3 linked regions of the Homo sapiens genome follow. The protein of the gene in region 1 purifies or fractionates together with the protein of each later gene. This does not show direct contact. Each region holds a gene or a part of one and is shown in the gene's direction. Other genes may lie near its edges.

Region 1 (3,654 bases):
CTGATTCTAGGCAGAGAGGTTTTCTGACCAGAGCTGTGAATTTATGGTAACAACTCTACAAAAATAAGTGAATTTTAATTTTTAAAACTGTTGCTTATCCAAGATGTGAGTTCTGCACTATTTATATACTTTAAAAATGTTTTTGTTGAACTATCAGTTTTCATTTTTTCTGTTTTTGTTCAGTGTAGAGCATTTTAAAGCAAATAAAAGTGAGTACAAATAGTTAAGCTCACTGCAAGTAGTCACAATATTTACTATATCATATATCCATGACACATCATCGTTATTACCAAAGCATTACAGTAAAACATGTTTTGTATTTATTGTAATTTTATCAGGTGTGAAAAGAACAAACATAAAAAGGGTAAATCTCTATTTGCATTCCCCCAGCATCTGTGACCATGAGCAGCTAGTTCAATCTCGTTCTGATGGATAGAGAGCAGACCCAAAGGATTAGCTGGTTTGTTTAGTCTTTTGAACTTGTTCCTTAAGAAGATTTTTCTCCCCTACCTTGAAGAATAGATAACAGCACTAGGCAACTGAGAGGTCCTCTGCCGATCAAGTACATCCTTCTTCCCAGTATTGCTTATGTCAAAACAAACCAATGGTGATAATATTTTCCTCCTCTGGTCCTTGACTTCAGGGGATGATATTTTATACACAAATTCACTGAAGCACCATATTCTTATAGTGTCATTTTAATCTACCTGACCAAAATCTGTTTTGAGACAATATAACACCAAGTCAGGGTTAGGCAGGCTAAGTTTTAGTCTTTATGCTAATTTGTTAAATGACCTTGGGTCAATTTATTGCCATAATGGAAAATCAAGCAATTCTATAACTTTAGCCTGCCTCCTTTTTTTTTTTCTTTTTTAGCTTTTTTCTTACATTTTTTAAAACATTTTAAGCCTCATGAAATTGCCTTTATTATTTTCATTTGTAAGGTTAAAAGTTTAAAAATAGGCTATAGGTCCCAGCTACTTGGGACGCTGAGGCAGGAGGATCACTTGAGGCCAGGAGTTCAAGGCTGCAGTGAGCTGTGATCACACCTGTGAATAGCCCCTGCCTTCCAGCCTGGGCAACATGGGTAGACCCTATTTCAAAAAAAAAAAAAAAATTAAGTTCATGGCCAGTCTGGGCAATATAGTGAGACCCCATCTCTTTAAAAAAAAAAAATCCACTTTTTAAATAACTTGAGTTTTAGGATTTGTACAAGCCATTACCTAAATAAAGTGAAAAGTTGAAGGAATTTTGACAAAGAAGAGGAGGAAAGATTCTTTATAAAAACTCTTTGATATCTTTCAAATGTAGACATTGTATAAATGCCTTGCTATAAAAACAAGACCAGGTGTTCTAACTCCTATAATTATAGTTGTATATATAGTTATGTGGTTATGTATATAGCTTTCCATATACATGCAGACTCCTGCCCTGGATATATAATAGAGCTTTTTCAAACATGCACAGCAAAATAATGTTGTTTCTCTCCTAGAGGCAAAGTTTAGTATAAGAGGTACAACTTGTGACTTGGATCTTCTGTTGGAACATTGAGAAGCTTTGCTAACACGGGGTTCAAGAAAAAGAGATCAAGGAAAAGGCAAACAAAAGCAATAAATTACTATTGAATGCTTTTTGTCATTTAGACAGCTGTGTTTATATCTCATTCATAGATAGATTAGCATGGTGGTTTCCTGTGTAATGACTACAAACATCCAGTTGTACTCGTTTACTTTGACCAGGTTAGGTTGGTTTTCTATACAGATACCTGGGCAACCCTTCAATAGCCTCTTTCCCAAGGCAGCAACTTACATGGAAGCCACTGGGTGCTTAACAATGGAAGATTCAATCTTTGTTGAATAGAGAGGGTGATTGTAGCACTTGAGCTGTGTCTCTTTTCATTACACATTGGGGAAGTGGGGAAATGAGGAAGCTTTTGGAAGCTAATCCATTTAGTGTGTGTGTTGAGGGTACAGGGAGAGATTAAAAACAACCCAAGATAAGACTCTGTCGCTCACCCTCCCAGAGTGATGTGGCCCCAAGCTGGCAAGAAAACAATTCTAATGGAGACAGGAAATTAAAAGACAGATCTTTCCTCTGCCACAGATTAGCTTTATAGTATCGAATAAAGCAAGGAAAGACCCTACTTTCCATATCTATAACATGGAGAGATGTTAACATGAAAATAGATTTTCTTTTCCCTATCAGTTAAGGAAGGCTTCTCTTTAACACAAATGACCACTGTCTTTTGCTTGGTCTCCACTTCTTTAAGGGAAATATCTTTGGAAATGGCAATCCATGGGAACGTTTCACAAATACTCTGTCATCGCTTATGTTTCTTGAACCACCTAGGTCTGTACTTGAGTTCATACTCTATCTGGTAGTTGAGCGCTTAGGAGTGCTTAGCTAAATAGATGCTCTGTTGTTTGAAAAGTCCACCTACCCCTATTTCTGTGGCGGGCTGGTCACTGTTGTGTGTCTATGTTTTACACTGACTGTGCCATCTCTAATGTTCTCCATTCCTGGACTTTTAGGATCACCAGCCTTTTGCAAATGCACACGATGTGCTAGCCCGCTCCCGCAGTCGAGCCAACGTGCTGAACAAGGTAGAATATGCACAGCAGCGCTGGAAGCTTCAAGTCCAAGAGCAGCGAAAGTCTGTCTTTGACCGGCATGTTGTCCTCAGCTAATTGGGAATTGAATTCAAGGTGACTAGAAAGAAACAGGCAGACAACTGGAAAGAACTGACTGGGTTTTGCTGGGTTTCATTTTAATACCTTGTTGATTTCACCAACTGTTGCTGGAAGATTCAAAACTGGAAGCAAAAACTTGCTTGATTTTTTTTTCTTGTTAACGTAATAATAGAGACATTTTTAAAAGCACACAGCTCAAAGTCAGCCAATAAGTCTTTTCCTATTTGTGACTTTTACTAATAAAAATAAATCTGCCTGTAAATTATCTTGAAGTCCTTTACCTGGAACAAGCACTCTCTTTTTCACCACATAGTTTTAACTTGACTTTCAAGATAATTTTCAGGGTTTTTGTTGTTGTTGTTTTTTGTTTGTTTGTTTTGGTGGGAGAGGGGAGGGATGCCTGGGAAGTGGTTAACAACTTTTTTCAAGTCACTTTACTAAACAAACTTTTGTAAATAGACCTTACCTTCTATTTTCGAGTTTCATTTATATTTTGCAGTGTAGCCAGCCTCATCAAAGAGCTGACTTACTCATTTGACTTTTGCACTGACTGTATTATCTGGGTATCTGCTGTGTCTGCACTTCATGGTAAACGGGATCTAAAATGCCTGGTGGCTTTTCACAAAAAGCAGATTTTCTTCATGTACTGTGATGTCTGATGCAATGCATCCTAGAACAAACTGGCCATTTGCTAGTTTACTCTAAAGACTAAACATAGTCTTGGTGTGTGTGGTCTTACTCATCTTCTAGTACCTTTAAGGACAAATCCTAAGGACTTGGACACTTGCAATAAAGAAATTTTATTTTAAACCCAAGCCTCCCTGGATTGATAATATATACACATTTGTCAGCATTTCCGGTCGTGGTGAGAGGCAGCTGTTTGAGCTCCAATGTGTGCAGCTTTGAACTAGGGCTGGGGTTGTGGGTGCCTCTTCTGAAAGGTCTAACCATTATTGGATAACTG
Region 2 (3,654 bases), on another chromosome or scaffold:
TGGTTTCTTCCTTCTAAGCCCATCATTTCACCATTTAGATTTTAGCTCAGAGGTTCCCACATTTTCTCAGTTCACAGTGCCCTTAATAGCTCAGTAATTTTTTCATCCGTCCCCAAGCCAAAAGAAATACCTAATAATTTAGTTTATGAAGTAATTGCAAGACAACTTGAAAGTAGTTGTTTGTATGGTGGTCAGCAGATGGCGCTGTGTTTCAAATTTAAAATACCCAGCAGTTAGCTGGATGATGTGGCAGGCAACTGTAGTCCACATGGACAGGCCGAATCCGCTACTCAGTAGGCTGGGGTGGGAAGATCACTTGAGCCTAGGAGTTCAAGGCCTGGATAGGGGAGTTGCTTGAGCCCAGGAGTTCAAGGCAACATAGTGAGACCCCCATCTGTTAAATACACACACACACAGAGGGGCAAAGGGAATAAATAAATATCCAGCAATGCCCCAGGGTGCCTCAGCACACAGTTTGAGAACTGCGTCATTAATCCACTTTCTAGATGCAGCATTCATGGTTTGGTCTTGTAACCTACTATTTTGATGGGAACCAAGTTGAGCCCACAATCAGAATTGCTCAGAAACTACACAGTCTGGAGTGTTTGAGGTCTTACTGTTAAGGGTTACATCTTTGATGACACCTACTGGATGGTTTTGCAGTAATCATGCTGCAGCCTAAAGTTCAGAGAATATGAGGGTGGTGGGAAATGATCACAGGGTGCTGCTGTAGCTCTGAACTGCGTTGTCAGAAGGGTTTGTTGACCTGGTGGCCTTTTTCCTGAGCAGACTGTGAAAGGCCTGGCATCCTGATTGGCTCAAGGCAGGAGTTGATAGATGCAGGCTCCCACAGTACCTTAAAAAGGAGAAATATTTTTTGTAAGTTCTACAAGTACAAGGTTTTTATAAGTACAGCGTTCCAAGTACCTGGGCACTCTGGTTGGCTTCAGTTACAGCTCACACAGGCTGAGTCATCTCTGCCTATGTATCTATACAAGCCATTTCACATCCATAGTACCAATACTTTTAAGGTCAAAAACAAGATGAATCTGAATGGTGGCCTTTTTGTCCTCCACCAATCCCTGTTTCTACCTTCATCAAACTACTCTGCTGTTTGCACTTCCTCACAACTTCCCTTGCTGCTTATATTTCTTTTTTCCCCTCAGGTGTCTCTCCTTCCCTTCTAACTGGCAGCAGCCCCCTTCACCTCAGGAGCGGGCTTTAGATCCGCTCTGCCAGGCAGCTTGCTAACTTCTGTGTAGCTCTCTGAAGCAGGTAGAGAAATGTTTTGCTAAATGCATGCCGCTCCCACTGCCTTTCTAGTCCTAACCCTCAATGTTCCTTAGTTGTTTGCCTTGTTTCCTACAATTTCAGCTAAAACTATTGCTCAGTATGCAGTATTATGCTACAGTGTCCCTTGCAAGTACTTGTTAGTTTGTGCAGTGCTTCTGAGATGTAATTAAATGTTTATGCAATGTTTAAAATAAACTCTAGAGGGCTAAAGCCATTAATATGCCCATAGGACACATCTCGATAAATGCTGGCATATATGGCATTTTCATGCAATAGAAACTGTTAGAATCAAGGGAGAAATATAAGACTAAAATATCAGTACCCTTTCACATAGCATTCTTGTTTTAACCTATGACAGATGGATGTCCAGAGCCTTTTCTTTTTCAGAGTCCTTGGTTTAGCAACCCTTGTTCGTTTGGTGTTACTTGTTATAATAGCATTTCTTTGCACCAAATGAAAATAGGTTAGTTTGAGTGTTGACAGAAGTGTTTATGTTGAATTTTGTCACATATGACTTTTGGATGAGCTGAGTGTAGAGTTTCTTTTGTCTGTCTGTTTCCATTTTTTCCATTCGACATAGTTCTTTTCAGTGCTCGGAATTTTTTGAAAGATTGAATTTCCCAAATGTAAGAAAGAAAATTTTATCCATATTTCCACACCAGTGTTACTGTCCAGCATACATTTTGAAATGATTTCTAGTCTATAGTGTAGGCAAACATGAAAATAGTACTATGTAGCTGTTTATTAAGGTATAGATGTAATTTAGGTAATTGAAATAGATGATTAGTTTTGTGTGATGGAGTGCCTGAGCAGGTTCTGACATTTTTATAAAGGTCAATGTTTTCACTTGACTGCTTTCTAGAGGTGTGTGTTTACCTTTCTCTCTTGCAGGACCTGGAGTTGCTGGCTACCTTACCGCAGGTACATCTACATCAGTCATGTCTAACCTGCCACCTCCTGTAGACCATGAGGCAGGCGACCTTGGCTATCAGACTTGAAATATTCACGAGAGACAATAAACGCTGAAAGGCCAGTGCCAAGTCCACATTCCTCCAGCTGATACGTTGAAGCAAACTCTTACTGCCTTTCTCCTGGTTTCATGACAGTGTTATTCCTTTTTCTATAAATATATTTTTAGGAAAAAAAGTCAGTGATCCTAATTGTATCACATTATAAGAAAGCACTCTGTGGATCAACATAAGTGGGTACACAAGAATTTTTTTTTTCTTGGTGTATGTAAGCACATTTGTTCCTTTATATCTGTTTACAAAACTGTGAATCAAAAAGACAAAACTTTCTTCCTAGTTTTTGTAATTTTTTTTTTGAACTAGCATGACTGTAGGGTTGAGCTACAGTCAACAAAAATTGGGCTAAGTCACTTTTCCCCAGGAAAGAATATTTCCCTCTCCTGCATCAAGTCTGCGTGGCCATCCTCCCCCCACCATCCAAGACTATTAGGTTTTGTCCCTGCACCCTTCACTGGCATCCTCAATCATTAACCTTCTGAAAGCTCACAGTACACATTAGTATGTATAACTGGCTTTACCAAATTGAATGAAAAGGAGCTTGTGCAAAAAAATTTAAAAATGGATGTCAAGATGTTATGTAAAAGATGAGTGTAATTGTGAAATGTTCTATACACTATCAAATATATAAAGCTTTCTATATTGAATGTACATTATACAGATCATTCATATGTGTACATAAAATTTTAAAAATAAAGGGAATTGACTGCTTTGTTAATGAGATATATTTGTTCTAGTTTAATCTTTCCGTTTGAAGACCTCATATATCTATCTTTATTTCTAAGACAGATGTAGTATTAAACAGACGTTATCTTACATTCGTAACTCTTCATATAGATGGCTGCATTAACATAATCTAATCATTCCTAACTTTAATATTTCAGCCACATCTAAGTTTCCAGACACAGCATCTCATTTATTTTTCATACAACATTCAGGAATGGGTCAGGCTGTTAATAATATGTGACATTAATTCTACTATTTTTAAGAAGAGAAAATTAAATAGCCAGAAGATTTTTCAAGTAACAAATCTCAGCACATAGATTTTCTAGTGTGACCACAAACTACAAGAAAATATAAACATGGAGAATATAAACAAACAGTTCTTAAAGAATGGGGAAATACCCACACTTCCAAGTTTCCTTTCAAAGCAAGAACCAAGTTTATTCCACAGTTGATGTGTAAGAACAGCCAAAATGGAAACTTACTCCTATTCCAAATCACTAATTCAAACTTCTGCATCAAGTTTATCATCTCTAACAGATTATAGAGTAATATGTTAATGGAAGTATTTTAATATGTAACTAGGGTTTTAGTTTCTAGACAATAGTTGGGT
Region 3 (3,654 bases), on another chromosome or scaffold:
TCTGGGCAGCCTGCCTGTACCGCAGCTGCCTGCTGCTGGGAGCCACCATTGGTGTGGCCAAGAACAGTGCGCTGGGGCCCCGGCGGCTGCGGGCCTCGTGGCTGGTCATCACCCTCGTGTGCCTCTTCGTGGGCATCTATGCCATGGTGAAGCTGCTGCTCTTCTCAGAGGTGCGCAGGCCCATCCGGGACCCCTGGTTTTGGGCCCTGTTCGTGTGGACGTACATTTCACTCGGCGCATCCTTCCTGCTCTGGTGGCTGCTGTCCACCGTGCGGCCAGGCACCCAGGCCCTGGAGCCAGGGGCGGCCACCGAGGCTGAGGGCTTCCCTGGGAGCGGCCGGCCACCGCCCGAGCAGGCGTCTGGGGCCACGCTGCAGAAGCTGCTCTCCTACACCAAGCCCGACGTGGCCTTCCTCGTGGCCGCCTCCTTCTTCCTCATCGTGGCAGCTCTGGGTAAGTAAGGACCTCGGGGACATGTGGCCACCAGAACATCAAATTAGGTGGATATGACTGCCTTAGATTTTAAAAGATTTTACTTACGTGGTTCAGACATCAAATTGATATGAAAAGGAAAAGAGGCCAGGCATAGTGGCTCATATCTATAATCCCAGCACTTTGGGAGGCTGAGGTAGGAAGATCACTTGAGCCCAGGAGTTGAAAACCAGCCTGGGCAACATAGCGAGAACCCATTTCTATTTTATTTATTTATTTATTTATTGTATTTATTTATTTTTTCGAAACATAGTATTGCTCTGTCACCTAGGCTAGAGTGCAGTGGCACAATCTCAGGTCACTGCAACCTCTGCCTCCCAGCTTCAAGTGATTCTCCTGCCTCAGCCTCTCAAGTAGCTGGGACTACAGGCATATGCCACCACACCCAACTAATTTTTGTATTTTTAGTAGAAACAGGTTTTCGCCATGTTGGCCAGGCTGGTCTTGAACTCCTGACCTCAGGTGATCCACTGGCCTCGGCCTCCCAAAGTGCTGGGATTACAGGCGTGAGCCACGGTGCCTGCCCCATTTCTATTTTATGTAATTTAAAACGAAAAAATAGGCCAGGCGCGGTGGCTCACGCCTGTAATCCCAGCACTTTGGGAGGCCAAGGTGGGAAGATTGCCTGAGCCCAGGAGTTCAAGACCAGCCTGGGCAATATGACAAGACCCCATCTCAATTTAAAAAAGGAAAAAGTAAAAGACAAGAGAAGAAAAAGGAAACTATGAGTTCCACTCCTGTTTTTTTCTTTTTTTAGACAGGGTCTCACTCTGTTGCCCAGGCTGTAGTGCAGTGGCATGATCACAGCTTACGGCAGCTTCAACCTCCCAGGCTCAAGTAATCCCCCCACCTCAGTCTTCCAAATAGCTGGGACTACAGGGGCGTGCACCACACCCAGCTAATTAAAAAAAGAAAAATTTGTAAAGATAGGATCTCACTATGTTGTCCAGGCTGATCTCGAACTCCTGGGCTCAAGTGATCCTCCCACCTTGGCCTCTCAAAGCACTGGGATTACAGGCGCAAGCCACAATGCCTGGCTGTGTTTCACTTCTAATTCTACCCTGATCATTCTGCCCAGGGCTAACTGCAGGAAAAGGACCCAGAAACTCCCAGGTGGCCAGGAAAGCATTCTTTCTTACTCAATTCTTGTGCATGTTCCCAGCTTTTCCTTATGCAGCTACAAGCACATCAAAAGAACATGCATCACTCCCCCACCTCTCACCCACATTGTTTTATGTTTTGCTCTTTTCACTTAACAATATGTTCTGGAATTTTTCCAACCAGTACCTCATTGTTTTATTTGGCTTCATAATATTCCATTGTGCGGCTATACCATAGATTATTTAGTTGGTCTCCCATCATTTGACTCTTGGGTTATTTTGAGCCTTTTCCTCTTAACATGAATTTTTTTTTTTTTTTTTTTTTTGAGATGGAGTCTTGCTCTGTCACCCAGGCTGGAATGCAGTGGTGCGATCTTGGCTCACCGCAACCTCCATCTCCTGGGTTCAAGCGATTCTCCTGCCTCAGCCACCCAAGCAGCTGGGATTACAGGCGCCTGCCACCACGTCTGGCTAATTTTTGTATTTTTAGTAGAGACAGGGTTTCACCATGTTGGCCAGGCTAGTCTCAAACTCCTGAGTTCAAGCGATCTGCCTGCCTTGGCCTCCCAAGGTGCTGGGATTACAGGCATGAGCCACTGCGCCCGACCTGCACGTCAATAATTCTGTTCATACACATTTCATATGAATGTGGATGGATCTGTAGAATAAATTCCTGGAGCTGGGATCATCAGAGAATAGACTAGAAAACATCAGAGTGGGCAGGCATGGTGGCTCATGCCTGTAATCCCAGCGCTTTGGGAGGCCGAGGCAGGCAGATAACGAAAAAAAAAAAAAACTCTCAGCAGTTTGAGACCAAAAAAAAAAAAAAAAGATATTAATATTTTAGTTGTGTGTGCCTACGTGCAGGTGTGGCCTGGTTTGTGACATGAAATGTATTTGTGCCTGTGAGTCTGGTCCAAACAGTTTGAAGGCACCACTCAGCAACATGGGTGGGAAGGTGGCACTGCATGGTTGGAGCTCACAGGTTCTGGGGGCAACGAGGCCTGGGCACAAATCCCTGTCCTGCTCCCTACCCAGCCGAGTGGCCCTGCGTAAGTTCTCCAGCCTTTCTGAGCCTCACTTCCCTCCTCTGTGCAACAAGGATTGTTGGAGTCCTTATTTCCTGACATTTTAGATGCTGAAAAGAACGGGAGAGCTGGGTGCAGTGGCTCATGTCTAATCCCAGCACTTTGGGAGACCAAGGCTACAGGATCACTTGAGCCCAGGAGTTTGAGACCACTCTGGGCAACACAGCAGGACCCTGTCTCTAAAAGAAATGTTTTTTTAATTAGCTGGGCATGGTGGTACTTGCCTATAGTCCCAGCTACTCAGGAGGCTAAGGTGGGAGGATCCCTTGAGCTCAGGAGCTTGAGTTATAGTGAGCCATGATGACGCCACTGCCCTCCAGCCCGGGCAACAGAGCAAGACCTGTCTCTACCAAAGAAAAAAAAAAAAATAGGAGAAGGACTAAGTACAGAGCTTGGCTTGTCATGGTAAGTGCTCAGGGTTGTTAGCTATTATGAGTTTTAAAAATTTTAAGCTGGGCGCGGTGGCTCATGCCTGTAATCCCAACACTTTGGGAGGCCGAGGTGGGCAGATCACTTGAGGTCAGGAGTTTGAGACGAGCCTGGCCAACATGGTGAAACCCCGTCTCTGCTAAAAGATATATAAATATTAGCCGGGCACAGTGGCTCATGCCTATAATCCCAGCACTTTGGGAGGCCGAGGCAAGTGGATCACCTGAGGTCAGGAGTTCGAGACCAGCCTGGCAACATGGTGAAACCCCATGTCTACTAAAAATATAAAACTTAGCCAGATGTGCTGGCATACGCCTGTAATTCCAGCTATTTGGGAGGCTGAGGCAGGAGAATTGCTTGAACCTGGGAGGCAGAGGTTGCAGTGAGCCAAGCTCACACAACTGCACTCCAGCCTGAGTGACAAAGTGAGACTCCATCTCAAAAAACATAAATAATAAAATAGTAAAATAAAAATGTTAACTGACAGAGACAGAGCCTAGAGAGGTGACAATGCAATAACAATGCCAGAATGTTCTGAGAGAGGA

Evidence for each region.
Region 2: the proteins of TMEM9B (region 1) and DNAJC13 purify together in Homo sapiens (co-immunoprecipitation; 3 studies listed by BioGRID and IntAct, with this or other methods). This does not show direct contact.
Region 3: the proteins of TMEM9B (region 1) and ABCB9 purify together in Homo sapiens (affinity purification with mass spectrometry; 2 studies listed by BioGRID and IntAct, with this or other methods). This does not show direct contact.

Annotation. Positions count from the first base shown.
Region 1 is NC_000011.10:8,947,353-8,951,006, reverse strand, and holds part of TMEM9B (transmembrane protein 9B isoform a precursor), read left to right. Parts: intron 1-2,531; coding exon 2,532-2,687; 3' UTR 2,688-3,654. UniProt on the Homo sapiens protein: Enhances production of pro-inflammatory cytokines induced by TNF, IL1B, and TLR ligands. Has a role in TNF activation of both the NF-kappaB and MAPK pathways.
Region 2 is NC_000003.12:132,535,992-132,539,645, forward strand, and holds the end of DNAJC13 (dnaJ homolog subfamily C member 13), read left to right. Parts: intron 1-2,184; coding exon 2,185-2,291; 3' UTR 2,292-3,041; downstream 3,042-3,654.
Region 3 is NC_000012.12:122,956,434-122,960,087, reverse strand, and holds part of ABCB9 (ABC-type oligopeptide transporter ABCB9), read left to right. Parts: coding exon 1-453; intron 454-3,654. UniProt on the Homo sapiens protein: ATP-dependent low-affinity peptide transporter which translocates a broad spectrum of peptides from the cytosol to the lysosomal lumen for degradation.